Linked DNA regions of Homo sapiens. The protein of the gene in region 1 interacts with the protein of each later gene in a pairwise test. Each region holds a gene or a part of one and is shown on either strand. Other genes may lie near its edges.

Region 1 (4,691 bases):
ACAGGATCACTTAAACCCATCATTAAAAAAATCAATATTATGCCCTGATGGTAATATAAAAGAGGACTAAGAGCAGGTTAATTTGTAATAGGACAATGTCTACGATGTCTATTTTAATGGGTAAGTTGTTGAGTCCCTATATGCAGAATCACTATAGCATCTGCTAGAAAGTATTACAAAATGTCGTTATGAAAAAGAGGATGCTGGTTCTGAATGGATAAGTTGCTGGCCTGGAAGATGCCTCAAAAGCTTTCTAACATTTTTATTTATTTTTAAAAGGTGAGGTCTCACTATGTTGCGCAGGCTGGTCTTGAACTCCGGGGCTCAAGTGGATCCTCCCACCTTGGCCTCCCAAAGTGCTGGGACTACAGGCATGAGCCACCACATCCCGCTGCATCCAAAGCTTTGAAACTCTGCTCTCCCTTCAATTCTAACGGCCCAAAGTGCCTTTTCTTTTTCTTTATTTTTTATTTTATTTTTTGAGACAAAGCCTTGCTCTGTCGCCCAGGCTGAAGTGCAGTGGTGCAATCATAGCTCATCATAGCCTAGACATCCTGGGCTCCAGTGACCCTCCTGCCTCAGCCTCCCAAGTAGTTGGGACTGCAGGTGCATGCCACCACATCTGTTTAATTTTTTATATTTTATAGAGATGGGGTCTGCCTCTATTGCCCAGACTGGTCTCCAACTCCTGGTATCAAGTGATCCTCCCACCTTGGCCTCCCAACAGAGTGGCTTTTCAAACTTCCAAAGAATAGCATTAGGTAAATAGAGTTGGCTGAAAATGGCCAAAAATGCTCTAAATTTACCGAGCACTTATTATGTGTCAGCTGCTCTTCCAGGCCCTTTGCATACATTACCTCATTCAATCCTGGCAATGACCCAATTAGATCCCACTATTTCCATTGTGTGAGGCCCAGAGATATGAAGTCACTTTGCAAAAGTCACACAGCAAGAACACAGAAGACTATATAATTCTGGACGACAGTGGGGCTTCTCTTAATAGTTTCCCTGAAATGCTCAAGGCCTCTGGTGCCAGAGAGCCTGGGTTCAAGGACACTGGTTAGAGGAATGACCTTGAGGAGCTCACTCAATCTCTCAGTTTCCCCATCTGTGAAGCCTCTAATCCGAACACTTTGGGAGACTGAGGTGGGATGATTGCTTGAGGCCAGGAGTTGGGGACCAGCCTGGGCAACAGAGCCAGGCCTCATTTCTACTAAAGGTAAAAAAATTAGGCTGAGTGTGGTGGCTCAACCCTGTAGTCCCAGCACTTTAGGGAGGCTAAGGCAGGCGGAATGCTTGAGTTCAGGAGTTTGAGACCAGCCTGGGAAACACAGTGAAACCCTGTCTCTACAAAACACTGTCTCTACAAAAATTAGCCAGGCATGTGGCACATGTCTGTGGTCCCAGCTACTTGTGAGGCTGAGGCGGATGGCTTGAGCCCGGGAGGTAGAGGCTGCACTGAGCTATGACTGCCACTGCACTCCAGCCTGGGCAACAGGCGAGACCCTGTGTCAAAAAAACAAAAACATACAGCATTTTTTTTTTTTTGAGACAGAGTCTTGCTCTGTTGCCCAGGCTGGAGTGTGATGGCACGATCTCAGCTCACTGCAACCTACCTCCACCTCCCAGGTTCAACTGATTCTCCCGCCTCAGCCTCCTGAGTAGTGGGAATACAGGTGGGCACCACCACTAATTTTTGTATTTTTAGTAGAGACGGGGTTTCACTATGTTGGCCAGCCTGTTCTCCAACTCCTGACCTCAAGTGATCCGCCCGCCTCGGCCTCTCAAAGTGCTGGGATTACAGGCATGAGCCACTGCTCCTGGCCAAATACAGCACTTTTTTTTTTTTTTTGAGACAGAGTCTCACTCTGTCGCCCAGGCTGGAGTGCGGTGGTGTGATCTCGGCTCATTGCAACCTCCGCCCCCTGTTTTCAGGCGATTCTCCTGCCTCAGCCTCCTGAGTAGCTGGGGCTACAGGCGCCTGCCACCGTGCCCGGCTAATTTTTGTATTTTTATTAGAGGTGGGGTTTCACCATCTTGGCCAGGCTGGTCTTGAACTCCTGACCTCGTGATCCATCCGCCTCGGCCTCCCAAAGTGCTGGGATTACAGGCGTGAGCCACTGCGCCTGGCCAAATACAGCATTTTATAATATATTTTTATAAACAAATACACAGCACGTGCTACTTTGGCTGTTGTCATTATTAATGTTACCGTCATTCTGCGGATTCGAGGTCACCTCCACTTACTTCCTCCTCCGATGCCTCCGCTCCTTGTCCTCCCTCCGCGCGTCCCCCTCGTACGTGGCTGGAGCGCCATGCCGGTGCCTTCTCCTGCGCTCGCCCCCGTCGGGGCCCTCGCCCTCGCCCTCGCCGCCCCGGGCCGGCCGGCTGCCCTCGCGGTGCCGCGCCCTCCGCTCCGCCTTGTCCTCCGGACCCTCCTCCCCGGGCCTGCGGTGCGCGCGATGACGTCGATGCTCCCCGTCCGCGCCCGTGCGCGGGGACCCGCTGCGGCTCTCCCTGCTGCCCCCCTGCCGGTGCACGTGCCTCCGGTGGGGGTCCCCGGCCTTGCCTCGCTCGGCCTCGCCCTCCCAGAACCCGGGTTGCTCCAGGCTGCCCTCCCGGGCGTGGTGGTCCGACTCGCGGCCGTAGGGTCCCTCCCGGCTCAGCTCGGCCTCCTGGCTTCCCGCCCAGGGCCTCCGTGCGTCCAGGCCCGCCGAGCCGCTGGGGTCCCGGGCCCGATCGTGGTAGCGGGCCTGTTTCCTGAGGAAGTCCTCGGCGCGCTGCTGGCCGAGGCGCTGGTCCACGGTGGGCTCGGCCGCCCGGCTCTTGTTGGTGTTGTTGTTGCGGTTCTCCTGCGGGTCCACCACCAGCGGCCGGTCCAAGTGCGTCTTCATGTCTGGCCGCAGGTGCCGCGTGTAGGCAGCCTTCCAGCGCTCGTCCGGGTCCATTTCGTTATACAGGGCCTCCCGGCTGGCCAGCAAGTTCTGCTTTCGCATCTCACTGGTCCGCTGCTCCCACACGGACTTGGCTGGCTTTTGATTCTTCTGTTGCTCTTTCCTGCAGTGGCATGGTCACAGGACTTAGAGCATTGCTAGGCACTGTAGCTTGGATGGATGACCCAGGCGAACCAACCCACATCTCAGCCTCCCACTCCTGCTCTCCACCCTCTACTCCCCACTGAATGCTAGGAGTCTGTGAGCATCTGAGTCAGGTCCCAGCCTCCTCTGCTCAAGAACCCTCCATGGCTCCCACCTGGCTAGGGGCAAAAGCCCAAGTCCTCCCCCCTGACCCAGAAGGCCCTGTGTAATCTGCTTGTCACCTCCTTGCCTTCACCTCCTCACACTTACTATTCGATTCTAGTCACACAGGCCTCCTTCACATCAGGCATGTTCCTGCCTCAGGGCCATTGCCTATGCTGTTCCCTCTGCCTGGGATGCCCTTCCCCAGGCCCCCCAGTGGCTCCTCCCTCACCTCCTTCAGGCCATGTAACCTTCTAGGTGAGCAGTCCCCAACCTTTTTGGCACCAGGGGCCAGTTTTGTGGAAGACAGTTTTTCCACAGACCTAGGTGTGGGGGGTGGTTTTGGGATGAAACTGTTTCACCTGAGATCATCAGGCATTCGATTCTTAAAAGGAGCACGCAACCTAGATCCCTCAGATGCACCGTTCACAATAGTGTTTGTGTTCCTATGAGAATCTAATGCTGCCTGCTGATCTGACGGCAGGTGGAGCTCAGGCGGTAATGCTTGCTTGCTCACTGTTCACCTCCTGCTGTGCAGCCCCGTTCCTAATAGGCCTCGGCCTGGTACCAGTCCACAGCCCCGGGACTGGGGACCCCTATTCTAGGTGATGCCTTCCCTGACAACTTCGTTTAAAATCACAACTCTCTTCACTCCCAGCATTTGCTATTTCCCTCCCCTACTTTCTCTGTAGTTCCATCGCCTTCTAACACAATATATAATTTACTTATTTATCTAATTTATTGACTCCTTCCCTTGCTAGAATGGCTACACACAGGTGGGATTTTTTTTTTCCTCCTTGTTAATGCTGTATCCCCAGAAGTTAGAACAGTGCTGGGTACATAACAGCTGCTAACCAAATATTTATTGAGTGAAAGTGGGTGGAAGGACAAGAAGTGTCTCTTCCTAAAGCTCAGTTCTGTCAAGGACCACCCCCACTGCTTCCCAAATCTGTGCCTGGGATAGTGTGGACGTTCAGGAGCCAGGGTAGCATCCCAGGGATTAGGGGCACTTACACAGCTATAGACATGTTGGCCGCGGACAGAGGACTCACTTCTGCCACCTCCTTGGCTTTCTGTAGGGCAAGTTTCTGGTTCGCTGCTTCTTCTTCCTCTTGCTCGTCCTAAAAGGCACGTGGAATCTTTGTTCACAAAACATGAACTAGGCCTTGGGGACTCACTTCTGACCCTGTTGCTGACCAGGGGCAACATTTGAAATATTTCGACCAATCAGAACCAAGGCTCCCCAATTGGAATGGGTACCTGCTATTGGTTAAGTGTATTGCTATCCCCTCTGTGTATAAGTTTGACATCTAACTCATTATGAAGCCTATTTTAACACACAGCCAGATAACAAAAAATAAAAATGTCCCTTCTCTTCCTACAATGAAGACTTTCCTGCAGCCTATTTTTTTTTCTTTTGTTTGTTTTCAGAGACAGAGTCTCCCTTGGTTG
Region 2 (4,691 bases), about 29 Mb from region 1:
ACCTCAGTGGCCCCCATGCCCACCTGGGGTGGGATCTCAGGCAGAGGTTTTGTCCCCTCTGAGGCTCCCCCACAACACGCCTCTGTTGTTCCAGCTTTGCTGTGTGACCCTGGTCCCCGGTGAGGTAACACCACCACTGAGCTTTATCCCTGCAGCCTGGGGGTCCTATTCACCTCTGGGCTGTCTCAGGGTGCCATCTGTCTCTTTCCAGCTGCTTCCCTCGCCAGCGCTATCAATCCCCCCATTCAATTTCTGCTGTTGAAATATTCAGTGTTTCTGTATCCCTAGTTGGACCTGAGTGAAGAGATGTCTGAAGGGCATCTCATGTCAAGAACCAGACTCTGATCTTCCTCACAAGCCTCAGTCTGCCCCATTCAATTAACGATCCCCTCAGCCACCCACAGTTCAGGCCACAAAGCTAGGGGTCATCGTGGTTTTGTCTCCTCCCTCACCCTGACATCCACACCATCATTTATATTCTTCCATACACATCCCACATCTGAGCCAGACTCCCTCATTGCCAGCACCCTACTCCAGCCCACCATCCCTGCTGCCCCTCTTGTCCCTCCGGTCCATTCTCCACAGCACAACTGAGTGACCTCTTAAATTTTTTTTTTTTTTTTGAGGTGGAGTCTCGCTCTGTCACCCAGGTTGGAGTGCAGTGACGCAATCTGAGCTCACTGCAACCTCCGCCTCCTGGGTTCAAGCGATTCTTCTGCCTCAGCCTCCCGAGTAGCTCGGACTACAAGTGTGTGCCACCATGCCCAGCTAATTTTTGTATTTTTAGTAGACATGGGGTTTCACCATATTGGCCAGGCTGGTCACGAACTCTTGACCTTGTGATCAGCCCACCTTGGCCTCTCAAAGTGCTAGGATTATAGGCATGAGCCACCGCACCCGACCCTCTTAAATTCTTAAATAGGTACATCGGATCCTGTCACTCCCCTTCATCAAACCATCCAACAGCTTCCCATTGCCCTGAGAATAAAACCCAAAACCCTATGTGGGGCCCACAAGGCCCTGGGTGATCCAGCCCCTGACTATCCCCAGCCTCATCTCCTCACACTTGATCTGGGTCACACTTACCAGTTTTCTGGTCCTTCCAATAAAACAAGCCTGCTCCCACCCCAGGGCCTCTGCCTTTGCTTCCCAAAGCTCTTCCCGTAGCTGGTTCTTCTCAGGCGTTCTCAGTCTAGCTTCTTTGAATGCCCAGCTGACTTCACCCCATCGTCCCTCACTGCCACATCCTCTGGAGGCCTCACAGTGCTTCTCCCTCTCTGAAGCCATCTTACTTGTGTGTGCACATGTGCATGTGTTCATGTGTGTATGCGTGTGGGGTGTGTGCATGTGCACTGATTGTCTCCCTTCACCAGAACCTAAGTCCCATGAGATCAGGGAACCTCGTCTCTTGGTTCCTGCTTTGCCCCACGCCTATGACAGTGCCTGACAGAGTAGGTACTCGATAAATAGCTGCTGAATGCAGAACAAAGGAGGCCCCATCTGGGCAACCCTGGGGGAAGGGGGCCAGTGGTCTCCAAGTAGACAGTGTCCAGGGGCCCCCAGGTGGAGGGACCCCAAGTCCAGGGCGGCCCTATCAGGTGACCCAGCTGCTGTGGATGAGAACCCTGGGCATGTCAGAGGGACATGCTGGTGAGGTTGTCCTGGCTCAACAGTCCCTTCCGGCCCGCACCAGTCCCATGCCCACTGCCCCCAGCACCCCCACCACCCCCACAGTACTCGTGCAGCCTGTGCCGCAGTGTGACGAGGGCTGACCCCAGGCAGGCGCCGTTGGGTGCATGGGGCCCGCCAGGCAGCTGGAGCAGCAGTGTGGCCACGCCAGCCATGCCATCTTCTGTGGGCTCGAGAGTGATGGGCCCAGCTCGCAGCCCAGCAGTGGTGGCGGGGATGGCTGGTGGGCAGCAGCCCCCTCCCATGGGTCCCCAGGGCCCACCGGCCCCTGTCAGCAGCAGGGGTGCCAGGAAGGGCTCAGAGCGGCGGAAGGCGGGAGGTGGGAGCCCAGCCGGCTTCCAGGCGGAGGCCGGGGCAGTAGGGTCAGGTGGGAAGCAGACGGTGACCTTGGCGAAGGGGCGGCTGGCCATCTTGGTCATCTCCTGCAAGTGCCGGCGCTGCTCCTGCCGCTGGTCCAGAGCCTGCTTGGCCTTCCAGAGGAGCACACAGAGTGAGAGGAAGAGGAAGAAGCAGGAGAAGAAGACGGAGAAGAAGACAAACAGGTCAATGTGGGCCTGGTCCTGCCGGAAGAAGAGCAGGCCCTGCGAGTCGGCTGAGCCGTTGGCGCCGGGCCCACTTGGGTCTCCCACGCCCAGCAGCAGCAGGTAGAAGCGGCTCGACTTGAGGGCATGGTGCTCGTGTGGGTAGGTGATGACCAGCCGGTCCCGCACGCCGCGGACCACCAGCACTGCCGACGGCTCCGTCACCGTCACGTAGGTAATCAGGCCCCGCGGCCATACCTCCCGTACCCGTGGCTCTGCTGGGGCGCCCGGCCCACTGCTGGCCCCTGCTCCTCCTGGATCCCCAGCCCCCCGGGGCCCACCATCTGCAGGGGGTGGTGGAGGTGGTGGGGCTGGGGGTGGCTGGATGTGTACAGTATGGACGCCAGTGTCAGGGGCCACACGGACCACGAAGGTGTCATAGGAGGTGGAGACATAGAGGTCCACGGCCCCGAAGGTCACGTCCAGCGTCAGGCGGATGTCCACGTTGGTGAATTTGGGCTGCACGCCAAAGAGGACAGTGCGGCCGGGGCCTAGCGCCCGGCGTTTGGGCTCATGGAAGCAGTTGGTCTGGGACGTGGGGTCCAGGCAGCACTCCTGCTCCACCGAGATGAGGCGGTAGCACTGCTGGCCGCCCAGCGGACTCCCGTGAAATGATTCCCGGCACTTGGCGCACTGCGGGCAGGGTTAGAGGCGGTGACCATCAGGGCTGAGTGCGGTGCCAGCCTGTCCCCCAAGCAGCAGTGACGAATACTCTATACCCACTGCTAAGTAGCCATTGCCCTGGGCCTCACCCCCACTGCCCCAGTCACTTCCCTGTGACCCCCCGGACCTTCTCTGCCACAGTGTAGACCTTGCCAGGACCTGGCACTCCAGCACTGCTGCCCCTGGTGCCACCCTAGTGACCTGAGCACCCTGATACTGAGGCCTCTGGCACTCTGAGGCACAGCAGTGAAGAACGCGGCTGCATTCTGGCTCTACCTCCTTGTTAGCTGTGTGGCCTTGGACTAGTGACTTAACCTCACTGAGCCTGAGCACACAGACTTAACCCATGAGCTCTGCACACAGGGAGTAACCACGGCTCGCTCACAGGACCACTGAGATCATGTGCATGGCACTCGGCGCAGGGTCAGCCAGCCTCGCCTGCCTGCCTGGATGCTTCTTCTATACTGTGCCAGGCGCCCTCCCACCCTGGGGCCTTTGCACTGGCGGACCCTCTGCCTGCATGGTTCTCCTGTCACTTGTCAGCTTGTCAAGCCCCCTTGCCTCCTTCAGATCTTTGCTCAAGAGCCTCCTTCTCACCTAGGCCTTCCCTGGCCACTGTGTCCTGCGTCTACCATTCCCACTCCCCAACAGCCCTAGCCCCCGCTTCCTACTTAACTTTCCTTAGCGCTCCTCGCTGTCTAACACACGAGCATCTGACTTGTTTGTTCATTTCTGATGCCTCCATGAGAATGCAAACTCCTAAAGACAGAACATTTGCCTGCTTTGTTCCCTACTGTGTCCCCAGCAACCTGCACGGTGCTTGCCATATACTAGGTGCTCAATGACTGTGTGCTGAATGAATGTGTGGCTGGATAGATAACGGCTATGATTCCTGTGGCTTAGTGGAAACCACTCAAGTTCTGAGATCAGACCAGGGTCACTCCAGGCACCAAGCCTAACTGACCACCTGATCTGGGGTGAGACTTTTTTTTTTTTTTTTTTTTTTGAGACAGAGTCTCGCTCTGTTGCCCAGGCTGGAGTGCAGTGGTGTGATATCGGCTCACTGCAACCTCTGCCTCCCGGGTTCAAGCGATTCTCCTGCCTCAGCCTCCCGAGTAGTTGGGATTACAGGTGTCCGCCACCACACCCAACTAATTTTTGTATTTTTAGTAGAGAAGGGGTTTCACCATGTTGGCCAGGCTGGTCTCGAACTCCTGACCTTAAGTGATCTGCCCGCCTCAGCCTCTCAAAGTGCTGGCATGAGCCACTGTGCCCAGCTAGGACATTTAATGTCTCTGAATCTGTCTTCCTCTTAAGTCTGTACCCCACTGAGGCCCCAGCACAGTCTTGCAAAGCCTTTCATATCTATGCTGTCACCACTGTCTACACAGCACAGCATCCAGCTCTGTGGCAGGCGCTCCTGGCATTCTAGTTATTACTGCAATCACTATTAGAACCAAGAGAAAACAGACGCAGTGACTCATGCCTGTAATCCCAGTGCTTCAGGAGGCTGAGGCAGGAGTGCCGCTTGAGCCCAGGAGTTCGAGACCAGTCTGGGCAACATAGTAAGACCCCCGTCTTTAAAATTTTTTTAAAATTAGCCAGGCATGGTGGTGTGTGCCTATAGTTACAGTTACTCAGGAGGCTGAGGCAGGAGGATCACTTGAGCTCAGGAGTTCAAGGCTGCAGTGAACTATGATTGCGCCATTATACTCTAGCCTGGGTGACAGAGTAAGCCCTGTATCAAAAAAAAAAAAA
Region 3 (4,691 bases), on another chromosome or scaffold:
CAGCTGTCATAGACTACTTATTCCTCCTGAAATATCCCTATTCTCTTCCTTGTCTCCAGGCCTCAGAACATTCTGGCTGTCTGCAAACCCTCTCCATTCCCTCTTCATCTGGCAACTCCTACTTATGATTCTGGCTTTAGCTTGACCTCACCCTTTCTGGAAAACCTTCCTTGACACCCCCGTCCCCTGTCTGGGTTGGGCGACCTCCAGTGTGTTACCACAGACCTTAGTTCTATGTTTTGCCTATCCCTATATGGCTTACTTAGTCTTATACTTGTAGGCTGTCTCTTCTGTCCCAGATATTGAGCTCCCTGGAGACAGCTCCCTGGGGACCTTTTCAATGTTCTGAGAATTTCACAAGCATCATTTCATTCCCAACAACCTTCTGAAGCCGACATCATTATTTATTTATTTTTTGAGACAGTCTCGCTCTGTCGCCAGGCTGGAGTGCAGTGACGTGATCTTGGCTGACTGCAACCTCCGCCTCCCAGGTTCAAGCGATTCTCCTGCCTCAGCCTCCCGAGTGGCTGGGACTGCAGGTGCGCACCACCACACTCAGCTAGTTTTTGCATTTTTAGTAGAAATGGGGTTTCACCATGTTGGCCAGGATGGCTTTGATCTCTTGACCTCGTGATCCACCTGCCTTGGCCTCCCAAAGTGCTGGGATTACAGGCATGAGCCACTGCGCCCAGCTGCCAATGCTATTATTACCCCCAGATTTACAGAGAAGTCTCAGAAGGGTTTGTTATTTCCTCAAAACCACCCAGAGCCCCAAACCTTGATCTGTGCAGCTCCAGAGTCCCCACCCCTCCCACCTCACCAGCTCCCTACCTTCAGTGTCTATGGTTCCTTTGATTTAGAGCTGATGTCTCTTCCACTCAGCCCATATTTATTGAGCCCTCTCTGCTCATAAGTGGCATGACATAAACAGTCATGGACTCAACCATCATTTATATTTCAAAGTGAAAGGCTGGGTCTAAATTACTTAATTTGGCTGTCCATGGAGATCAAATTAAACAGGTAACTGCTAGATGTCTCTCAGGCTTTAGTTCCTGTTTGGGGGACATATTTGTATTTGAATTCTGGTGCTGCCACTTATTAACTGAGTTTCTCAACCACTCTGAGCCTCAGTTTCCCCATCAGGTAAAAAAGGGTTACAAATAGTACTGTCCTATAAAGGTTTTGAGGAGCTCGGGAAGATTATTTCTGGAAAGCATTTGGCAGTGTACCTAGCATGTGATTTGGGCTCAACGAATATGAACTGCCGTTATTATTGTTGTTGTTATTGCTATTTCAATTTTTCCTGCATAATAGCACTGCTGTATATCAGTAAACATGTGTCCTCCTCCTCCCTTCTGGGAACTTCACTGCCTGTTCTTGGAGACACTGACATTGGCTCTGGCCCAGCTCAGGTTCTCAGTCAAGCTTGGGTGTGAGCTGAGGCCAGGGATGACCTGGGGCAGGCAAATGGGAAGGCAGTTCTGCATGTGGATGTCAAGCTGTTTGTCCAGGACTGAAATGGGGTATGTGTTAGGGACAAAGAGTGCTCTGTCTTTGAAGAAGCTGTTAGCTGCTTCAGTGCTAAGGCGTTAGTCATCTTTTGAAAATTTTGGCTATATGGAACAAAGGCAAACTCCCACCCTCAGAAGTAGAAAAACCTCACTGTTAGCATGACAGAGGGCACCAGCAAAGCTTTTCCACCCATCCCGCAACTGTGCATCTGCCTCATTAATTATAAGCTCCTGAGAAAAAGGACTGTTCCATTTTTAAATCCCCAGCACCAGGCTGAGTGTCTGGCAGAGAGGACTTGCCTGATAAACAAGTTGAGGAATAAACAACAGAATGAATGGTACAGACTAAGTGATCAGTAAATTTTAGTAGCTATTATGATGACAGTAACCTCAGTGATTAGCATTTTGTTGTGATTTCTTGAGTGAGAGAGTTAAGCGGATGACGAAGTAGAATTACAACTGGCTCATATGCATCTGTGTGGAAGAGTTTTCTGCAGGAAAACTGCATCTAGTGAGTGTGTTAAGATGGGTAAAAAAATGGAGAAATCTCAATGTTCTCTGATATGTTGATAAATTATACTATGGTATATCTGTATCTATAATTAATAAACTTTATTTTTTAGAGCAGTTTTAGTTTCATAGCATGATTGAATGGAAAGCACAGGGAGCTCCCATATACTTCTTGCTGCTACACACGCACAGCCTTATTCCCCACTATCAGCATCCTCCACCAACGTGGTCCATTTGCTACAATCGATGAACCTCCATTGACACATCATTATCACCCAGAGTCTATAGTTTACATCAGAGTACCCTCTTGGTGTTATACATTCTATGGATTTGGACAAATGTATAATGACAGTTATCCACCATTGTAGTGTCACACAGAGTAGTTCCATTGCCCTAAAAATCCTCTGTGCTCTGCCTATTCATCCCTCTGTCCCCTCACCCTCTGGCAACCACTTATCTTTGTACTTTCTCCATAGTTTTGCCTTTTCCAGAATGTCATACAGTTGGAGCCATGCAGTGTGTGACCTTTTCACATTGGCTTCTTTCACTTAGTAATATGCATTTACATTTCCTCCATGTCTTTTCATAGCGTGGTACCTCATACCTTCCGAGCACTGAATAGCATTCCATTGTCTGGACGTATCATAATTTATGTATTCATTCACGTACTGAAGGATATTCTGGTTGCTTCCAAGTTTTAGCAATTACAAATAAAGCTGTTGTAACATCCAAGTGCAGGTTTTTATGTAGAGATAAGTTTTCAATTCATTTGGGTAAATACTGTGATATGTTCTTTTTTTTTTTTGAGATGGAGTCTGGCTCTGTCACCCAGGCTGGAGTGCACTGGCGCAATCTCGGCTCACTGCAAGCTCCACCTCCCAGGTTTATGCCATTCTCCTGCCTCAGCCTCCCAAGTAGCTGGGACTACAGGCGCCCGCCACTATGCCTGGCTAAATTTTTGTATTTTTAGTAGAGACGGGGTTTCACTGTGTTAGCCAGGATGGTCTCGATCTCCTGACCTCGTGATCCACCCGCCTCGGCCTCCCAAAGTGCTGGGATTACAGGCGTGAGCCACCGCACCTGGCCTGTGATATGTTCTTAAATGACTTACAATTAATTTAATGTTAGACTTTCTTTCATTTTTTTTTTCTTTTGAGATGGAGTTTCACTCTTGTTGCCCAGGCTGGAGTGCAATGGTACAATCTCAGCTCACTGCCACCTCCGCCTCCAGGGTTCAAGCAATTTTCCTGCCTCAGCCTCCCGAGTAGCTGGGATTACAGGCATGTACCACCACACCCGGCTAATTTTGTATTTCTAGTAGAGACAGGGTTTCTCCATGTTGGTCACGCCGGTCTCGAACTCCTGACCTCAGGTGATCCACCCGCCTCGGCCTCCCAAAGTGCTGGGATTACAGGTGTGAGCCACCACGCCTGGTCAATGTTCGACTTCCTTCTAAGATTACTGGTAAAATTGTCATCTGTTTTTTTGCCTGCCTAGCCTCCATCTCTCCTGATACCAATAACCTGGCTTTTCCTGTAGAGGAGTGTGGGAAGGTTCGACTCATTAGCCCTAGTGATGGCATCTGACACATTCTGGCCAACAGCATAGCATCCCCTGGGACAGTGATGGGCAGATGACCTAAGCTGGGCCAAACAGAACCAATAAGCACCTGCCTTGGTGTTTGGCTGAAATCTTTGAGAAAGAAGCATTGTTTTCCTGTTGGCTGGCTAAACCAATAGAATGTTAGCTGCTTGGCATATTTGACAATGCTTTGGGAGGATCTGCTTGAGAATAAGGCCAGTAGGATGAGGAAGCAGAATAAGAGATGTAATGAGAAAGACGGATTTCCAGCAACATATTTTTGAACCCCTGAATCCAGCTGTACCTGAAGCTAGTGCCACTAGTGTTTTAAAACAAGCCAGTCTGAGTTGAGTTTCATCTCTCTTACAAATAAAATAATCTTGGGGGTGGAGTGGGGGAGGCTGGGATGAGAGCATGAGAAGGTGGAGCTAAGGTGGGAGACCGTCTACCCCCGACCCTGTGTGGTGCACTGACCTTGACTCTCTGCCCCTGCTGGTGGGGGAGAGATTCTCCAACATGGCCCCCTTGTTCTGGGGTGAGGAGGTGGTGAAGGAGTTCCCTGAATCAGAGGTGTTGCCACTGTTGAGCTCCCGGCTCTTGCTCAAGCCCCCACTGGGGCTCCCCTTCTCCTGGCCCCGAGACCTGGCTGAGCTGGTTTGCGTGGAGGGTGGCGAGGACGTGTCATTTCCTGAGTCGTACTCCTGGGAACGTCCTCGCGAGGTGGTGAGCGGGCTGGCTGTTTTGGTAAAGAGGTCAGCAGCAGACCCCGACCCAGTGATCTGAAAGCAAAAAGACCCGTTGGACACTGCTGAGCGCTGGGCCCATGGGCTGTTTCTAAATAACCAAGAAATGTTTACCGTCATGATGCACTGTAACGAAAGGAAAGAGAGAGAGAGGAGAAGAAAGAAGAGACGCCAAAAAACAAAAGCACAAATTCCTGAAGGAATACCACAGAAAGGAGATTTTTTTTTTACCCCCTGCTAGGATAACTGGAAGATTTAGGTATCATGCAGAGAAAAAGCATGCGATTCAGATTAAACAAAAGAAAAAGGAAATTATACAAAATTTAATTTCTAATGAATTAAACAA
Region 4 (4,546 bases), on another chromosome or scaffold:
TCTAGAGCAGGGGCTGACAAACTTTTTCTTTAAGATGTGGAGACTAACATTCTTAGGCTTTGTGGGCCATATGGTTTCTACCCCAACAACTATAAATAACAACTGTTAAGTAACACATAAAGCAGTATGACTGTGTTCTAATAAAATTCTATTTACAAAAGCAGGAGGCTGGCTGGGCCGCAACTTGCCAAACCCTGATCTAGAGAGCTATGCCCTTTTCATATCTAGCCTTCAGAATATAAAATTCAACAAACTTATTTTCAAGATACAACTTTTAGGTAAATTTGATACCATACTTTCTATTTTCATTTGATTCTCCTGTAAGCATTTATTTTGTTTTATATGTATGTATCTCTCCCCCAACCCAATTGTATTTTTTTTATTCCGGCATTAAGTGCCTTGAACATAAATTCCATAAATTTACTTTTATAGTCCATATAAAGTTTTGACTACAACTAATAATGTCACCTTAGCTAACACTTGTATAGCACTTCAGAATGCATTATCCCAGGGTTTCTCAACCTCAGCACTGCTGACTTTGGGACAAATAATTGGGCCCACCAGGGAGGAAGAAGGGGACGGAATACTGTCCTGTATATTGTGACGACATCAAGCAGATATTAGCATCCCCCGCCTCTACCTACAACATGCCAGTAGCACACATAAACACACAGCCCCAATACTGACAAACAACAGTGTCTCTAGACATTCCCAAATGTCCCCTGGGTTAGATATAATCACCCTCAAGAGAAGTTTTAAGCAATATGCCCCACGTGGCGGCAGTCAGGCAACTTAAAACTGGTGAATTCAGATTCTCAACTCATTCCATTTAAATCACACTACTTTTACATCAGTATTTCTGTCCCACTGCCTAGCTGAAATATCCTTCTATTTTTGCCATCCATTTTATGATTCTCAAATGCTGTTTCTGTGACCCAAAATTTATTTTTAATATTCATAATATAGAGTCTATACTTTTAATGTTTTTGAAGTATTGATGGCTATCCAACTAAAATCAAATGGCTAATTACACATTTTTATTCAAAAAAATGTGATGAATGAAAAAACTGGCTTCTGAGCTTAAAATTCATAGGGAATTTTCACTACTAAAAATTATGACATGGACATTTTTTTGAAATATTTGTTGTGTGCCCTTTAATAGCATAAAAATATACCAAGAATGTAAAATTTTTTTAAGTTAGTATTTTTATTTTAAAAAGTGTGTTAACTTTTAACAGGTATCCACTTGTCGACTAAGAAAGGATCAACAAGCAGAAGATGATGAGGATGACGAGTTAGATGTTACAGAAGAAGAAAATTTTCTTAAGTAAACTACACATTTCCATTTTCATCATAAATGACTTGAAATCCACAATGACTAAATTGTAGAACTTTATACTCACTTTGCTATGTTAAGCCTCAAAGTGAAGTCCAACTGGAAACAGAAAAATAATTAAAGGAAACTTATGCTGACCAAAAATGAAGGCTTTAAAAAATATTGCATACCAGTCATTTCAACATCCTACCTAGTGTTACATGATTTTTGTGTAAGTGCCTTTTTTTTTAAAGATGGTGTATTTCAAAGTATTTCATATTAATGTACTATATCTACTTGAAGTTCCAATAGTACATTATGACAGAAACCAAAAGATCTAACAATTCTGCTTAGCTTTTTGGTTAAGACTCCATGCTTTCATTACCAGAAAAGGGTCTTACGTAGTCATTATGATTCATGGAATTCTATTCCATGAAGCCTTAAGAAAAAAAACTTTTTTTAACTTTCCCTGAAACTTTATCATTTGATAAGTAAATTTACTTTTCAAGAAGAGTATAACCAAAGAGTAAAGATAATGTGACACTAAGTTATCAATGTTTTATGAATACACATAAGGCATAAATTTCAGCTGTAAAAAAGCTACATTCAATCTGACTCTGGTTTTAAAACAAAACTGCTGTCATAATTATACATGATACTGCAACTTTTGGAAGGCTAATTTGGTGGAATGTTGCCTCATCATAGAACACCATAGATCATTAAAAATTCTATAAAAATTTTACCAAGCTACCATATAGTTAATAAAAGGGTATACAGTCACTTTTATTTCTGAAAATATAAAACATTGAGCCTTTCAGTGTATCTGATGCTTCTCTTTTGGTAAGGAATACTTTTATTTCATGGATCCCAGGCAGGCATATAAAAGTTACGGAATTTATAAAATCATTTGGGATAATTAGAAAATGCAATTATTCATAACAGAAAAATAAAGACTTTCTAGAAAGCTTCTGACTTTGTCAATCATGGCTCTGTTCTTAACAAAGCACTCCTTCCTGAGAATAGTCCTAAGTGACAAAGTTGTTTCAGTACTTTTTTGTAAAATATTTAAAACATTTTAAAACCCTAAATTGATATTCTTAAGAAACTCAAGATATCATTGGATATTTACTGCTTCCTCACTCAGTATTTAAATTTGGTTGTACTTCGGGGGAAAACAACAGAGTTATTATTTTGCTGCTTACTAAATAGCAACTTCTCTTGAGCATTATTTGCCTTGTTTGTAAAGTTAAAACTGCGTAAAACAGTAATTCTGGAATAAAACATACATTCTGCCTACCTCAAAGAAATATTCTAAGAACAAAAGGAATACTATCCATGAAAATACTTTCATTAATGTAAAATTTTCATTATTTAGACCAGCCTAGGTTGGCAAACTTCTTAAAGGGCCAGATAGCAAATACTGTTATTCTTCGTGGGTTTAGGCAAATTCAAGACTATTATACAGGTAACTATGTAACCATGTAAGACTTAAGTACACTTAAAAAATGTGAAAAACCATTCCTAGCTTCCACTACAACAACAACAAAAAACAGGCAACCAATCCAACCAACCCAGCCTGTAAGTCTCCATCTCTTATCTCCAAAATAGGAATACAAATTGAGTATCCTTTATCTGAAGTGCTTGGGACCAGAAGTATTTAAGACTTTGGATTTCTTCAGATTTTGGAGTATTTGCATTATACCAGTTCAACATTCCTAACCCAAAAATCTGAAATCTTAAATGCTGCAATGAGCATTTTCTTTGAGCATCATGTTGGCACTCAAAAAGTTTGTGATTTTCGGAGCATGTGAAATTTCAGATTACCAGATTAGGAATACTCAACCTGTAGTACATTTACTAGGATTATCAGAATTAAATGATAGTTAATTCATACATAATTATACATCATATAGTATCTAATACAGCTCAATAAACAACAGCTAATATTTACTGCAAAAACAGAGGCAGCAAGGTCACTACTTAACAGGTGATATATGGATCAAGAATCACTGCTCTTAACAGTGATCTCAGTAAATTAATAGAAATGCACTCCTAACATGATTTTTACCTATCTCTTGGTTGTGGGATTGACTTTCTAGACATGATCTACATTTTTTTAGATAATTTCTAGACAAAAATGTTTGGCTTTAAGACAAATGCCACTGGGTATCAGGCTAGAGAATACACCTCCAGTGTACCTGGTATACCTTGAGGATAGGAGAGGAAAAACTGGCTATGAGACGACAATTACTGAAGCTGAGTGATGTGTACATGAAAATTTACTATTCTTTTTTTATATTTGAAATTGATGAGGTGCTGGGAAGCTGGCTTTCTGAGGGGACAACAGGAGGGGAATTCCTTGATTTGCTGCATTTATCACTTTCCATGGTGTAAAATACTCCTGCCATGGCCAATTTGTTATTGACATATCACTAAAGGCAGAGTTGGAGAGAGATGTGCAAAGATGGCTCCCAACTAGAAGATACCACTTTCTGTAATCAACTTTTTATAATGAAGTTTAAAAATATTAAGCCCTGATACATTATAGGGTAAAAGGAAATATTCATATAAATTAATTTAAAAATCAAAATACAAGGCTGGGCACAGTGGCTCACACCTGTAATCCCAACACATTCTGGGAGACCAAGGAGTGAGGATTGCTTGAGGCCAGAAATTTGAGAACAGCCTGGGCAACACAGTGAGACTCTGTCTCTACAAATAATAAAAAATTTAGCCAGACAAGGTGGCACACACCTGTAGTCCCAGCTCTCAGGAGGCTGAGGCAGGAAGACAGCTTGAGCCCAGGAGTTAGAAGCTGCAGTGAACCATTATCAGACCACTGCACTCCAGCCTGGCCAGCAGAACAAGACTCTGACTCTTAAAATAATAAAACTACAAAGCTTATGTTTACTCTAGCTGGCCTCTTATCTACCACCACCATCCCACCTCAGCCCAGTTTGAAATGCAATTCCACAGTAAGTAATCCCTCACGTTAAGCTTCATCTTAGCTTTATTCCTTTGTATCTGAGAAGCATTTTTTAACTTTCCATATATTATTCAAAATGGGTGACCAAATGAACCATCTATACAATCTTTGCTCAATTAAAAATATCATTTCTACTTTCTTCATTGTGCTTGGTTTGGATATTCCAAACAATCAATTTAACATTATCCTAGCTACTTACAAGCTTATACTTTAAAGAATCATACTGAGGTGCTTTTTCATATCAA
Region 5 (4,145 bases), 9.5 Mb from region 1:
ACTCACGTCATGACGGCCGTCTCGTCCAGGAAGGCCTGGGCTGTCACATCACACTTGATATTCTTCACGGCCACCTTTTGCCCCAGGTACTCACCCTGCAGGACAGCTGGGGGGTGGGGGTGGGGAACGGGGTGAGATCAGGACCCCCAACAAACAGGGACAGAGAGACAGACGGACAGGCCCGCTCACACCGGTGCCCATGTAACATTCACACAGCTGCGGGTCCCCAGACCTTGAAACACAGACCCCATGCTCCTCACCCCTGCCGCCCTTGCAAGCTCCAGACCCAAGATCAGAGAACCATCTGGCTCTGGCGCGGTGGCTCACGCCTGTAATCCCAGCACTTTGGGAGGCTGAGGCAGGCGGATCACCTGAGGTCAGGAGTTCAAGACCAGCCCGACTAACATGGAGAAACCCTGTCTCTAATGAAAATACAAAACTAGCCAGGTGTGGTGGCACATGCCTGTAATCCCAGCTACTCGGGAGGCTGAGGCAGGAGAATCACTTGAACCCGGGAGGCAGAGGTTGCAGTGAGCCAAGATTGTGCCATTGCACTCCAGCCTGGGTGACAGAGCGAAACTCCATCTCAAAAAAAACCCCACAAAAAACAAAAACAAAGAGAGAACCATCTAAGCCAGGGGTCTGTGAACCCCCACCCCCTCGGGGCCAAATCTACCTATCACCTCTTTTTGCAAGACCCTTCAGCTCAAAATGTTTTTTGCATTTTTATTTTTAATTAATTAATTATTTATTTGAGACGGAGTCTTGCTCTGTCGCCCAGGCTGGAGTGCAGTGGCGCCATCTCTGCTCACTGCAAGCTCTGCCTCCCAGGTCACGCCATTCTCCTGCCTCAGCCTCCCAAGTAGCTGGGACTACAGGCGCCCACCACCACGCCCGGCTAATTTTTTTTTTTTTTTTTTTTAGTAGAGATGGGGTTTCACCATGTTAGCCAGGATGGTCTCGATCTCATGACCTCGTGATCCGCCCGCCTCAGCCTCCCAAAGTGCTGGGATTACAGGCATGAGCCACTGTGCCCGGCCAACATTTTTATTTTTAAAATATTGATACAGGGTCTCACTCTCTCACCCAGGTAGAGTGCAGTGGCGTGATCACAGCTCACTGCAGGTTCAAATTCCTGGGTTCAAGGGATCCTCCCATCCCGGCCTCCTGAGTAGCTGGGACTACAGGCATGCTCCACTGTGCCTGGCTTTTTTTTTGTACAGATGGGGGTCTCGCTACGTTGTCCAGGCTGCACCTGAACTCCTGAGCTCAAGGGATCCTCCTGCCCCGACCTACCAAAGTGCTGGGATTCCAGGCATGAGCCACCGTGCCTGGCTGGTTTTTGCATGTTTAAATGGTTGTAAAAACAAATCAAAAGATGAGTGCTGTTTCAGGACATGTGAGCATTACACAAAATTCAAATTTCTGGGTCATAGTTTTCATGGCCACGCCCATATGTTTACATATTGTCTGTGGTCGCTTTCACTCCACAAGGGCAGGATTCAGTAGTGGTGACAGCAGCTACCTGGCCCACAAAGCAGGAAATATTTACAATCTGGCCTTTTACAGAGAGTCTGCCGACCCCTGATCTAAACCCCAGAGCCTTCCAGAATAATAATTTCAGGGAATGGTGTTTCAAACATTCCAAACAGTGGGACTGACCATACAAGACCCTGGCAGTGTGAAGAAGTCACTAACGTTGACTGAGCGCCTGCTTGAGTTCACTTACTCCTCATGACAGCTGCCATTACCCCCTGTTCCAGAGGGGGAAACTGAGGCTCAGAGGATTTGCACGTCTTCAGCTGCACAACTAGTAGGTGGTTAAGTATGGGTTTGAATTCAGCTCTGTGACTCCAAAGCCTCAATACGCACCTCCCATCTTCCTTCAGCACCCCCAACCCAGTCCGCCACTCACCTCCAAACTCTCCCTCTCCGATCTGTGCTCCCAATGTCAAATGCTGCAGGTTCAGTAACCAGCCCGCTGTGGAGTGAAGACCCAGTCAGAGGGGTAATGGGCCCCCTAAATCCTCCCATTGGGGGTTCTACTTGGTGAGAGACTAGGTGATGTCTCTCACAGTGCTGCAGCTGTGGATACACATTTGAGTGGCTGCTGGGCCTGGCAATGCCCCTAGGACATATCAGAGACACCCCACTCCTGGTACCAATTATTGTTGTTGCAAGCAACAGAACTATCTCAGGTTGACCTGAACAAAAAGGGGCTTACAGGAGGGATAGTGGTGTGAATAGTCAAAGCTGGGGGCCTGCCTGGCTGAGACCCTCAGACCCCACACTTGCCCTCCAGGAACTCCCAGTCAGGCCCAAGGGGTAGTGCCAGGAAACACTTCAGTTCTCAGAGATAAGAGCTGCCCTTTTCTCTTTGGCTCTCTTGTCCCTCCAAATACCCTCTGGGCTCTTCCCTACACAGTTCTTTACCTCTGACCACCCCAGAAACACACACAGAGCAAAAAAACACAACATGGAGACCCATAAAGGTTCCAGAATATTCCAGGGCTCTAGCCTCCCTGACCCTTCTCCCAAGCACTCCTGTGTTGTCCCCTCCACTGCCCTCTGGTCGGTTCTGCAGACGTTCTCTTCTCCCTCCAGAAAGTGCCCCCTCCAAATGCCACGGTCTTAAGAGATCATTGGCCAGGGTGATGCTAGTCTCCACCTGGATGCCATCCCTGATGGGTACAGACTTCCCCAGCAGAGAGATACTTTCAAGGAGACAGACATGGGGTCAGAGGAGGCATTTGCTTTTGACCTTAAATATTGAGGATTTCACTACTTAGGGGCTGGAAAAGCATTTCAGGTGAAGGGAACAGAATATACAATGGCTCAGAGGCATGAAGAAAACGATGATCACAGTTGACCTGGGAGGGGGTGGATGTGTGGAGGAAGGGCTTTGCAGATGAGGCTGGAAAGGTGGCTCAGGCCATGCAGGCAGGTTCTGGAAGGTGGTGGAGCTGCTGGGCCTCTCTCCCTGGAGGCATGGTTTCATGATAGAAAGATAACCTTGAGGCTGCACTCAAGGCCTGGGCTGGAAGGGGGACTCGCCCTCTGGGAAGGAGGCGGTCTGATGGGAGGGCCTGAGGCTGGGCTGTGGGGAGGGGAGGGGAGAAGATTCACCAGGTCTTGGGAACCTGGCCAAGGAGGGAATGCTGGAGGATGGGGTGGGTGGAGGTTCGGGGCCAGGTTTCTGGCTCAGATGGTGGATGATGGTGACAGATGAGTGGCGAAGCTGGGGACCTATTGAATAAAGGACTGATCTGTGTCTGTGGGCACCCCCGAGGCAGCCCAGGTCTTCTATCCCATAGCTGGGCATGGAGACAGGCTTGGGTGATCTGGCCTCAGAGGTGCGGGGCCCCAGGGCCCTTCCTCCCGGACTGGGCTAACGTGGGTAGGGAAGGGGGTCTGCCCTCCTGGGCGTCCCCTACCCCTGGCCAGCTCCTCCTCGGCCGACTTGGTCCCGTGTTTCCGCTTTGGTCTCACCAGCTTGGTGCAGATAGCGCCCTTGTCCTTGCTGTAATGCTGCAGGATGGTGGGACAGCCATGAGCCCAGCCCCAGGGAGGGGAACCCCAGCATCCTGTTCCGTTCCCGGGTGGCCTCTGGGTGGGGTGGGTGGGACCGGGGAGGAGGAGAAAGGCTGGTTTCCATAGGAACGGGAAAGGAGGCAAGCCAAAAGGAGGGGGAGTCCTCTGGATTGGTATCAACTTGGGGGGTCCTGGGGGGTCCCCAGAGGAGTCACTCTAGTCCCTGGAGGTAGAACCAGGCTGACTCAGGCCACCTGTAGATTGGGCAGTCCATAGGGATCAGCCCCCCTATTTCTGCATTAAGGGGAATCCTACTGTGGGGGTCCTCCTGTCTGCCCATCTGAGATGGGATGGGGGCCTGGGGGTGCCTGGGGGGCCCTGGGGAATACCCCCTTCATCTCCACATTGGGGAAGCACAGAGCTCAGGGGGTCCCGGGTGATCAGCACAGGAGGTAGGGATGGTGTCTGCCCAGCTGCTGGGGAAGGGATGGAGGTCAGGTGACCCGCCCCTCTATCTCTACGTAGGGGAGTCTCCGGAGTCCCTGGGCTGCCCCACTGCAGGGACGGGGTGGGGCCTCTGGGTGGCAGCACCTCCACCATGTCCATGAGGTTGC
Region 6 (3,939 bases), on another chromosome or scaffold:
GGCCAGTGCCACATAGTCTGCCCGCTCCGTGGCCTTGCCACTCCAGAGCACCAGCCCCTGCGTGGCCTCAGTGCGCAGGCTCAGTTCAAAGTGGTTGCTCTGCAGTGCCTTCTCGCTGGAGGGCAGAGGGCAGGTCAGGGCCTCTAGGAAGGTGGCAACAGGACAGGGTGGGGGAGGCGGGAGGACAAGGGCCCCAGCTGCGGAGGCCACAAGGGCTGTGACGGGACCCAGGGGTGGCTGGTGGGCAGACACCGACAGTGGGAGGGAGAAGAGGGATGGAGACAGGGGCAGCCTGGCAGAGAGAGATCAGAGAGACGGGCGGGAGGACAGATGGGCCAGCCAGGGGTCTGCAGGCACTGCTGCCACGTGCTCACCTGTGAAGGGCCCCGGAATCCAGAGTTTCGGGGCTTAGAAGCAGGAAGAGAGGGAGGCGGGTGAGCAGGGGACAGGCGGGGCCAATGCAAACCCATCTCAACACTGTGGGGTGCAAGGAGCAGGCACCCACAGAAGACATGCGTGACCTCGAGGATCACTGGCCGCCCACCAAAGAGCCCAGCAGGGACACCTACACATGCTTGTGCGGACACGAGACACGTGAGGGTGCAGACACCCACGTGCAGACACGAGACACTTGAGGGCACAGACACCCACATGCAGACACCCACGTGCAGACACCCACGTGCAGACAGCAGGGGAGCACAGCCAAGGCTGGGCGCAGAGATCAAGGAGGTAGGCGTAGGGTGGTATGGAGTGGAGACCAGGGGCTTGGATGCCCCAGTACACACATGCATGTGTGCATGCACGCAAACCTACACACGGACACACACACCCCTCCATGTTCACACACATACACACGTGTACACGAACACACACAGACACACCTGAGTGCTCCCCACTTACACCTGTTCATACACACACACATCTACATATCCCCCCATATATACACGCATATACACGGACCCATGCACACACTCGGACACACACCTGTCTCCCCCACATATACACACACATACATGGACCCATGGACACACACTCGGACACACACCTGCGTGTCTCCCTCATATACACACACATACATGGACCCATGTGCACACACTATACACACATGGACCCATGCACACACACTCGGACACACACCTGCGTGTCTCCCTCATATACACACACATACATGGACCCATGTGTACACACTATACACACATGGACCCATGCACACACACGGACACACACATGCATGTCTCCCTCACCTATACACACACATACATGGACCCATGTGCGCACACACTCAGACACACACCTGCGTGTCTCCCTCATATACACACACATACATGGACCCATATGCACACACACACACACGGACACATACCTGCATGTCTCCCTCATATACACACACATACATGGAGCCATGCACACACACGGCCGCATAGTCACACACGCATATCTACATGTCCCCCCCACATATACACACACACATATACATGGACCCATGCACACACACAGCTGGATATTCACACACACTTGCACATCCACTCCATATACATAGACACGCACAGACACAGCTGCATGTTCACACACGCGGAAGTGCACACGGACACAGACATGCATGCATATGCGCACAGGTGTGTACAGCCTCAGTGGTGGGGGTTGGCTGTGGGGCGACCCTCGGCCTGTGCCCTGGGAGGGGCGACTGCACTTCTGAGGCAGGAAACGGCCTCTTGCAGCCAAATAGCGCCGGACCCCCATCCTCCGCCACAAGGGATGGAAAGTTCCCCGGGGGCTCCGGACTCTGCTCCCCACCAGGAAGGATGGAGGAGTGGGAGTGAGAGGGAGCGGGGGGCGCCGAGCTCTACTCACACGGGGATCTCATTGGCCAGTTCGCTTGGAAACAAAGAGACAGACAGTGAGAGGCGGGAGGACCGGGAGGTGAGAGAGAGGCGGGAGGACAGAGGTGGCAGCACCGGGCCGTCCCCTCCTGGGCCCTCCTGGTGTGGGGGTCCGGTGTCCCGCCCCGAGGGCACAGATGGAACCGACAGCCAGCAGAGGATGGCACGTTACCTCTCGGTCACAGCGTTGAGGTACTCGACAAAGGTCCGCCCGTCAAAGGCCAAGGTATCCACGTCCCCCGCTGACTTCTCCACCAGCCCTGTGAGATAGGCAGGTGAGGGTGGGGCCTCGTGGGCTCCGGGCCCATCCGGCCTCCGCCCCCTGCCCTGTGCCAGGCTCACCCTTCTCGCAGTGCGGTCCTGAGAATCCCCCGGGACACAGGCACACATAGGCAGCCTCCCTCGGGACGCAGGAGGCCCCATTGAGGCAGGGGTGGCCTGAGGCCCGGGTGCAGGGGTGACCTGCAAAGGACGTGACGTCCACCTGCCGCAGCACGTGCTCCGGGGTCAGCAGCTGGCGGCCTCCGAGGGAGACCTGCAGGGCAGGGTGAGGGCCTTGTCCCGCCTGCCACCCCGCCCGCCCCGGAGGCCCTGCTGGGACGCCCCGCCCCCACATACCAGCTGGATGGCACCGTCGAAGCCAGAGGACACGGCAGCAGCACGGGCCAGCTTGCTGAAGTCGGGAGCGCCCCCTACGTAGAGCGGCTCCTTCAGGTTGAGGACGGTGTGCGGAACCTGCGGGGACGCCAGGTAAGTGGCTGTGCAGAGCCCACCCACGGTGCAGACCCAGGGCCCAGGCACCTGCACGCACCCGCCCCACCCGCCCATTGCCTATCTAGGGGGCAGCGTTAATCACACAGAAATGGCAGGGTCCTTAGTGGGGGAGGAGCTACCCTAGGGGTTGAGGCGCCAGAGACGGTGAGCGGATGAGAGGCCGACAGTACCTTGCGGGATTTCTGGCCTCCGAAGAGCGGGTGGGGTTGCAGAGCGAGAGCAGAGAGCAGGGAGGCAGAGGAGGCAGAGGACAGGGCAGGCGGCCAAGAGAACAGGACAGAAAAACAGCTCCGTGAGCGCCGGCAGGGGCGGGGCTGCCGCCCGAGGAGGAAGAGCAGGCAGCAGCGGGAGTCCCCTCGCGGCCCAGAGCACTCACCGGGGACTCCCCCAACACACGGGGGCCGTCGCCCACACGCAGGGCACCCTTGCGGCCGTTTCGCTCCAGTGAGACCCTGGTCCAGGCTCCCAGGGTGACTGGCTCCCTGCTCCTGGTGAGGAGGGGCAGCGTGAGTGGGCTCTGTCCACCACCGGCCACGCGACCACCCAGGGCCTGAGCGACCTGCTGGTGCCCCGGCCCCGGGCCAGTGCCCCAGGCCTCCCAGAGCCACCCTTGCCGGCCCACCTGATGACCGCTGCCCCCTTGCCCAGGTCGTAGCGGAACTCCAGGCGGCGGTCCCGCAGTGCCAGCGACACGAAGTCCCCCTTGCCGTCCGTCTTCTGCCCGTTGTAGAGCAGGAGGCCGCTGGGGCCTCGTGCCAGGAACACGACCTCCAGCGCCATCTTCTCCCTGGGGTCATGGGGAGTCGGGGTGTCTTTGCTGTCCCCTCCCCACAGGAGAGACGGAGGTGGGGGCCGGCCCTTCCCCCTGCTCCTGCCCCACCGACCCCAGGTCCCGTGCAAAGGTGTGCAGGCCTCTCAGCTCCAGGTGGGAGAAGCCGTTGAAGTCAGCCAGGAAGGGCCCAGAGCCGTCCTGCCCCGAGGCTGTAGGGAGAGTCACCAAGGCCTCAGTCCTGACCCCCGGGGCCTCCTGCACCCCATGCCAGCCGTGTGTGGATCCTAACTCAAAACCCAGACTAGACTGAGCCGCATCCTAACTGCAATGCTACCTGGAACCTGTACCCGCCCAAACGTTCAACCCCCCCCCCCCCCCTGCCCCGAGAGCCCCACGCCCCCGACCTGTCTGGCAGAAGGTGCCCTCACGCCCCAGGGGGCACTCGCACTGAGCACCACCCTCGGGCAGCACACGGCAGGGCGCCGCCCCATGGCAGGGGTTGGGCTGGCAGGG
Region 7 (3,500 bases), on another chromosome or scaffold:
TATTTTGTTCATACACTTACCAGCTGAAGATCATGTGAGTTATCTCCTGTTTTTGGAGATCATGAATAAAGCCACTGGAGCAGGAGATTTAAGGGTGGGGAATGTGTCTCTTTTCTGAAAGGTCTCCAGCACATCTTTTTTTTTTTTCTTTTTTTTGAGAAAGGATGTCTCTCTGTTGCCCAGGCTGGAGTGCAGTGGTGCAATCATGGCTCACTACAGCCTCAACCTTCCACACTCAAGTGATCCTCCTGCCTCAACCTCCCTAATAGCTGAGACTACAAGTGTGTGCTACCATGAAGGGCTAATTTTTTTTTTTTTAATTTTTAGTAGAGATGGGGGTCTGTGTTGCCCAGGATGGTCTCGAACTCCTGGGCTCAAGTGATCCTCCCACCTCAGCCTCCCAAATTGTTGGGATTACAGACGTGAGCCACTGCATCCAGCCCTTCATCACATATCTCATCTCACAACAACCATCAGAGATAGATGTAACAGGTGTTATTGTTATTAACTCCATTTAAGAGGTGAAAAACACTGAACCAAATAGAAGTGAAAAATTGGGCTTTTAAAATGGATTTTTGGCCGGGCGTGGTGGCTCACAGCTGTAATCCCAACACTTCAGGAGGCCAAGGCAGGTGGATCACCTGAGGTCAAGAGTTCAAGACCAGCCTGACCAACATGGAGAAACCCTGTCTCTACTAAAAATACAAAAAATAGCTGGGCGTGGTGGTGCATGCCTGTAATCCCAGCTACTCAGGAGGCTGAGGTAGGAGAATCGCTTGAACCCAGGAGGTGGAGGTTGTGGTGAGCTGAGATCGCACCATTGCACTCCAGCCTAGGCAACAAGAGGAAAACTGTGTCTCTAAATAAATAAATAAATACAAATAAATAAAATGGATTTTCAAGGCCAGGCATGGTGGGTCACACCTATAATCCCAGCATTTTGGGAGGCCACGGCAGAAGGATCATTTGAGCCCAGGAGTTCGAGACCAGCCTGGGCAACAGGGCAAAACCCTGTCTCTACCAAAAATACAAAACAAAATAAGCTGGGTGTGATAGTGCGCACCTGTAGTCCCAGGTGATGGTTTGAGCCTGGGACGCAGAGGCTGCAGCGAGCTGAGATCATACCACTGAACTTCAGCCTGGGTGACAGAGCCAGACCCTGTCTCAAAAAAATAATAACAATAACAATAATAATAATAAAATGAATTTTCATATACTTTGGTATGGTTTAGTAAGTTTCAGGGGGCAGACTGTCAGGGTAAGATGGATTGTTATATATATGTATTTATATATATATGTGTGTGTATGTATATTTATATACTTATTTACTTATTTATTTATTTTAGCAGAGATAGGGTCTCCCTATGTTACCAGCCTGGTCTCAGACTCCTGAGCTCAAGCAATCCTCCCACCTCGGCCTCCCAAAGTGCTCACATTGCAGGTGTGAGCCAGCACACCTGGCCTATAAGGGGAATTTAAAGGACTCTCTACTATGATGTCCCTTCTCCCAATCCCTTCCCCATGTAGAAGAGGTTTCTGTTGAGTGACTGGCGTTTGCTTATATTTCTCAGTGCTATGCCCAGTGTAATGGAAAATGCACTGGCTCAAGAGCCCAGGGATTTGAGTTCCAGGCCAAGCTCATCCACTAACTGAGAGAGTCAGTCAAACCTCTTTGGATTTCAGGTTCTTCATCTGAATAACATATCCCATAGTACACTGCAAAGATGACACGTGACAGTGAACAAGTTAGTTTTCCTTTAGATATTAAGAATGAGGCCAAGTGCAGTGGCTCATGCCTGTAATCCCAGCACTTTGGGAGGCTGAGGTGGGCAGATAGTTGAGGTCAGGAGTTCGAGCCCAGCCTGGCCAACATGGAGAAACCCCGTCTCTACTAAAAAAATACAAAAAAAAAAAAATTAGCCGGGCGTGGTGGTGAACACCTGTAATTCCAGCTGCTCGGCAGGCGAAGGCAGGAGAATTGCTTGAACCCGGGAGGTGGAGGTTGCAGTGAGCGAGATTGCGCCACTGCACTCCAGCACCTGGGTGACAGAGGGAGTCAGTCTCAAAAAACAAAAAAAAAAAAAAGAAAGAAAAAAGAATGAGATTAGAGAGGGTCTTCATTCCTCCTGGAAGAATACCTGATGTACCTGAAATCTTTGTTGGTGACAGGAAATATGTCGATGGCAAAGGGTTTCACTGTCGCCTCCCGCACAGGCCCGTCACCATCTCTGCTGTCTGGAGAATTTGTTCCCATCAGGAATCTCCCACCCTGCAGTTGGACCATGCTAGTAGCCTGTCCATTTCCTGCAGAGAAAAAAGAGAGTTACCAGTAATACATGCATATATATAAAACAAGTGGTAATATTTGGATCATATGCAATACTCATGATGGTATAACAAAACACAACAAAAAATGTGGAGGCTTAAAAATCTGGCTTTAAATTCCTTTTGGGCTGGGCACGGTGGCTCACACCTGTAATCCCAGCACTTTGAGAGGCCGAGGCGGGTAGATGACGAGGTCAGATCAAGACCATCCTGGCTAACACGGTGAAACCCCTTCTCTACTAAAAATACAAAAAAAAAAATTAGCCGGGCGTGGTGGCAGTCGCCTGTAGTCCCAGCTACTTGGGAGGCTGAGGCAGGAGAATGGTGTAAACCCGGGAGGCGGAGCTTGCAGTGAGCCGAGAGTGTGCCACTGCACTCCACCTGGGCAACAGAGCGAGACTCTGTCTCAAAAAAAAAAAAAAAAAAAAAGAAAGAAAAAAAGAAAATTCCTTTTGCGTTTTGTTTGTTTGGCTTCACATTCTTGTTCTGCCACTTAATTTGCTGGGAAACCTTAGGCAAATTACTTAATCTGAGATTCAATTTCTTGTCTTTTTTTTTTTTTTTTTCGTGACAGGATCTCGCTGTGTCACCCAGACTGGAGTGCAGTGGTGCACTCTGGGTTCACTGCAACCTCTGCCCCCGTCAGCTCAAGCAATCCTCCCACCTCAGCCTCCTGAGTAGCTGGGACCACAAGTGTGCACCACCACACCTGGCTAATTTTTGTATTTTTTGTAGAGATGGGGTTTTGTTATGTCGCCCAGGCTGGTCTCAAACTCCTGAGCTCAAATGATCCTTCCACCTCAGCCTCCCAAAGTGCTGGGATTATAGGTGTGAGCCAGCACGCCCAGCTGAGATTCAATTTCTTCATCTGAAAAATGGGGATATCTATGGACGACCATAGCTTATTAATAAAAGAAAAAATAAGTATGAAAAATAGGGATAATATCTCACTATCTCTTAGGTAGCAGCTGTATCAATTAAAATAACATGGAACCAGGAGCAATGGCTCAGAGACAGGGTGCAGAGGCTAAGGCAGGAGGATTGCTTGAGCCCAGGAGTTCAAGGTTGTAGTGAGCTATCATTGTGTCACTGCACTCCAGCCTGGGTGACAGAGTGAGACCCTGTCTCAAAAAATAAAAAATAAAAAGATAATAATAACAATAAGATAGCATGGG

The links.
Region 2: the proteins of CACNA1A (region 1) and MEGF8 interact in a two-hybrid assay, tested with the Homo sapiens proteins (one study listed by BioGRID and IntAct).
Region 3: the proteins of CACNA1A (region 1) and SRRM4 interact in a two-hybrid assay, tested with the Homo sapiens proteins (one study listed by BioGRID and IntAct).
Region 4: the proteins of CACNA1A (region 1) and RBM12B interact in a two-hybrid assay, tested with the Homo sapiens proteins (one study listed by BioGRID and IntAct).
Region 5: the proteins of CACNA1A (region 1) and MATK interact in a two-hybrid assay, tested with the Homo sapiens proteins (one study listed by BioGRID and IntAct).
Region 6: the proteins of CACNA1A (region 1) and AGRN interact in a two-hybrid assay, tested with the Homo sapiens proteins (one study listed by BioGRID).
Region 7: the proteins of CACNA1A (region 1) and SUMF2 interact in a two-hybrid assay, tested with the Homo sapiens proteins (one study listed by BioGRID and IntAct).

Annotation. Positions count from the first base shown.
Region 1 is NC_000019.10:13,296,297-13,300,987, forward strand, and holds part of CACNA1A (voltage-dependent P/Q-type calcium channel subunit alpha-1A), read right to left. Parts: intron 4,361-4,691; coding exon 4,254-4,360; intron 3,058-4,253; coding exon 2,248-3,057; intron 1-2,247.
Region 2 is NC_000019.10:42,373,719-42,378,409, reverse strand, and holds part of MEGF8 (multiple epidermal growth factor-like domains protein 8 isoform 1 precursor), read right to left. Parts: intron 2,904-4,691; coding exon 1,635-2,903; 3' UTR 1-1,634. UniProt on the Homo sapiens protein: Acts as a negative regulator of hedgehog signaling.
Region 3 is NC_000012.12:119,145,071-119,149,761, reverse strand, and holds part of SRRM4 (serine/arginine repetitive matrix protein 4), read right to left. Parts: intron 4,382-4,691; coding exon 4,077-4,381; intron 1-4,076. UniProt on the Homo sapiens protein: Splicing factor specifically required for neural cell differentiation.
Region 4 is NC_000008.11:93,726,967-93,731,512, forward strand, and holds the end of RBM12B (RNA-binding protein 12B), read right to left. Parts: 3' UTR 1,332-4,546; coding exon of another isoform or gene 1,239-1,331; 3' UTR 1,189-1,238; downstream 1-1,188. Other genes in the region: CIBAR1 (CBY1-interacting BAR domain-containing protein 1), read left to right, coding at 1,239-1,331.
Region 5 is NC_000019.10:3,779,692-3,783,836, forward strand, and holds part of MATK (megakaryocyte-associated tyrosine-protein kinase), read right to left. Parts: coding exon 4,123-4,145; intron 3,529-4,122; coding exon 3,435-3,528; intron 1,982-3,434; coding exon 1,916-1,981; intron 107-1,915; coding exon 7-106; intron 1-6.
Region 6 is NC_000001.11:1,049,929-1,053,867, reverse strand, and holds part of AGRN (agrin isoform 2 precursor), read right to left. Parts: coding exon 3,831-3,939; intron 3,636-3,830; coding exon 3,539-3,635; intron 3,442-3,538; coding exon 3,277-3,441; intron 3,143-3,276; coding exon 3,031-3,142; intron 2,837-3,030; coding exon of another isoform or gene 2,825-2,836; intron 2,616-2,824; coding exon 2,499-2,615; intron 2,416-2,498; coding exon 2,223-2,415; intron 2,141-2,222; coding exon 2,053-2,140; intron 1,876-2,052; coding exon of another isoform or gene 1,852-1,875; intron 408-1,851; coding exon of another isoform or gene 375-407; intron 116-374; coding exon 1-115. UniProt on the Homo sapiens protein: Isoform 1, isoform 4 and isoform 5: neuron-specific (z+) isoforms that contain C-terminal insertions of 8-19 AA are potent activators of AChR clustering.
Region 7 is NC_000007.14:56,067,286-56,070,785, reverse strand, and holds part of SUMF2 (inactive C-alpha-formylglycine-generating enzyme 2 isoform b precursor), read right to left. Parts: intron 2,305-3,500; coding exon 2,148-2,304; coding exon of another isoform or gene 2,139-2,147; intron 1-2,138. UniProt on the Homo sapiens protein: Lacks formylglycine generating activity and is unable to convert newly synthesized inactive sulfatases to their active form. Inhibits the activation of sulfatases by SUMF1.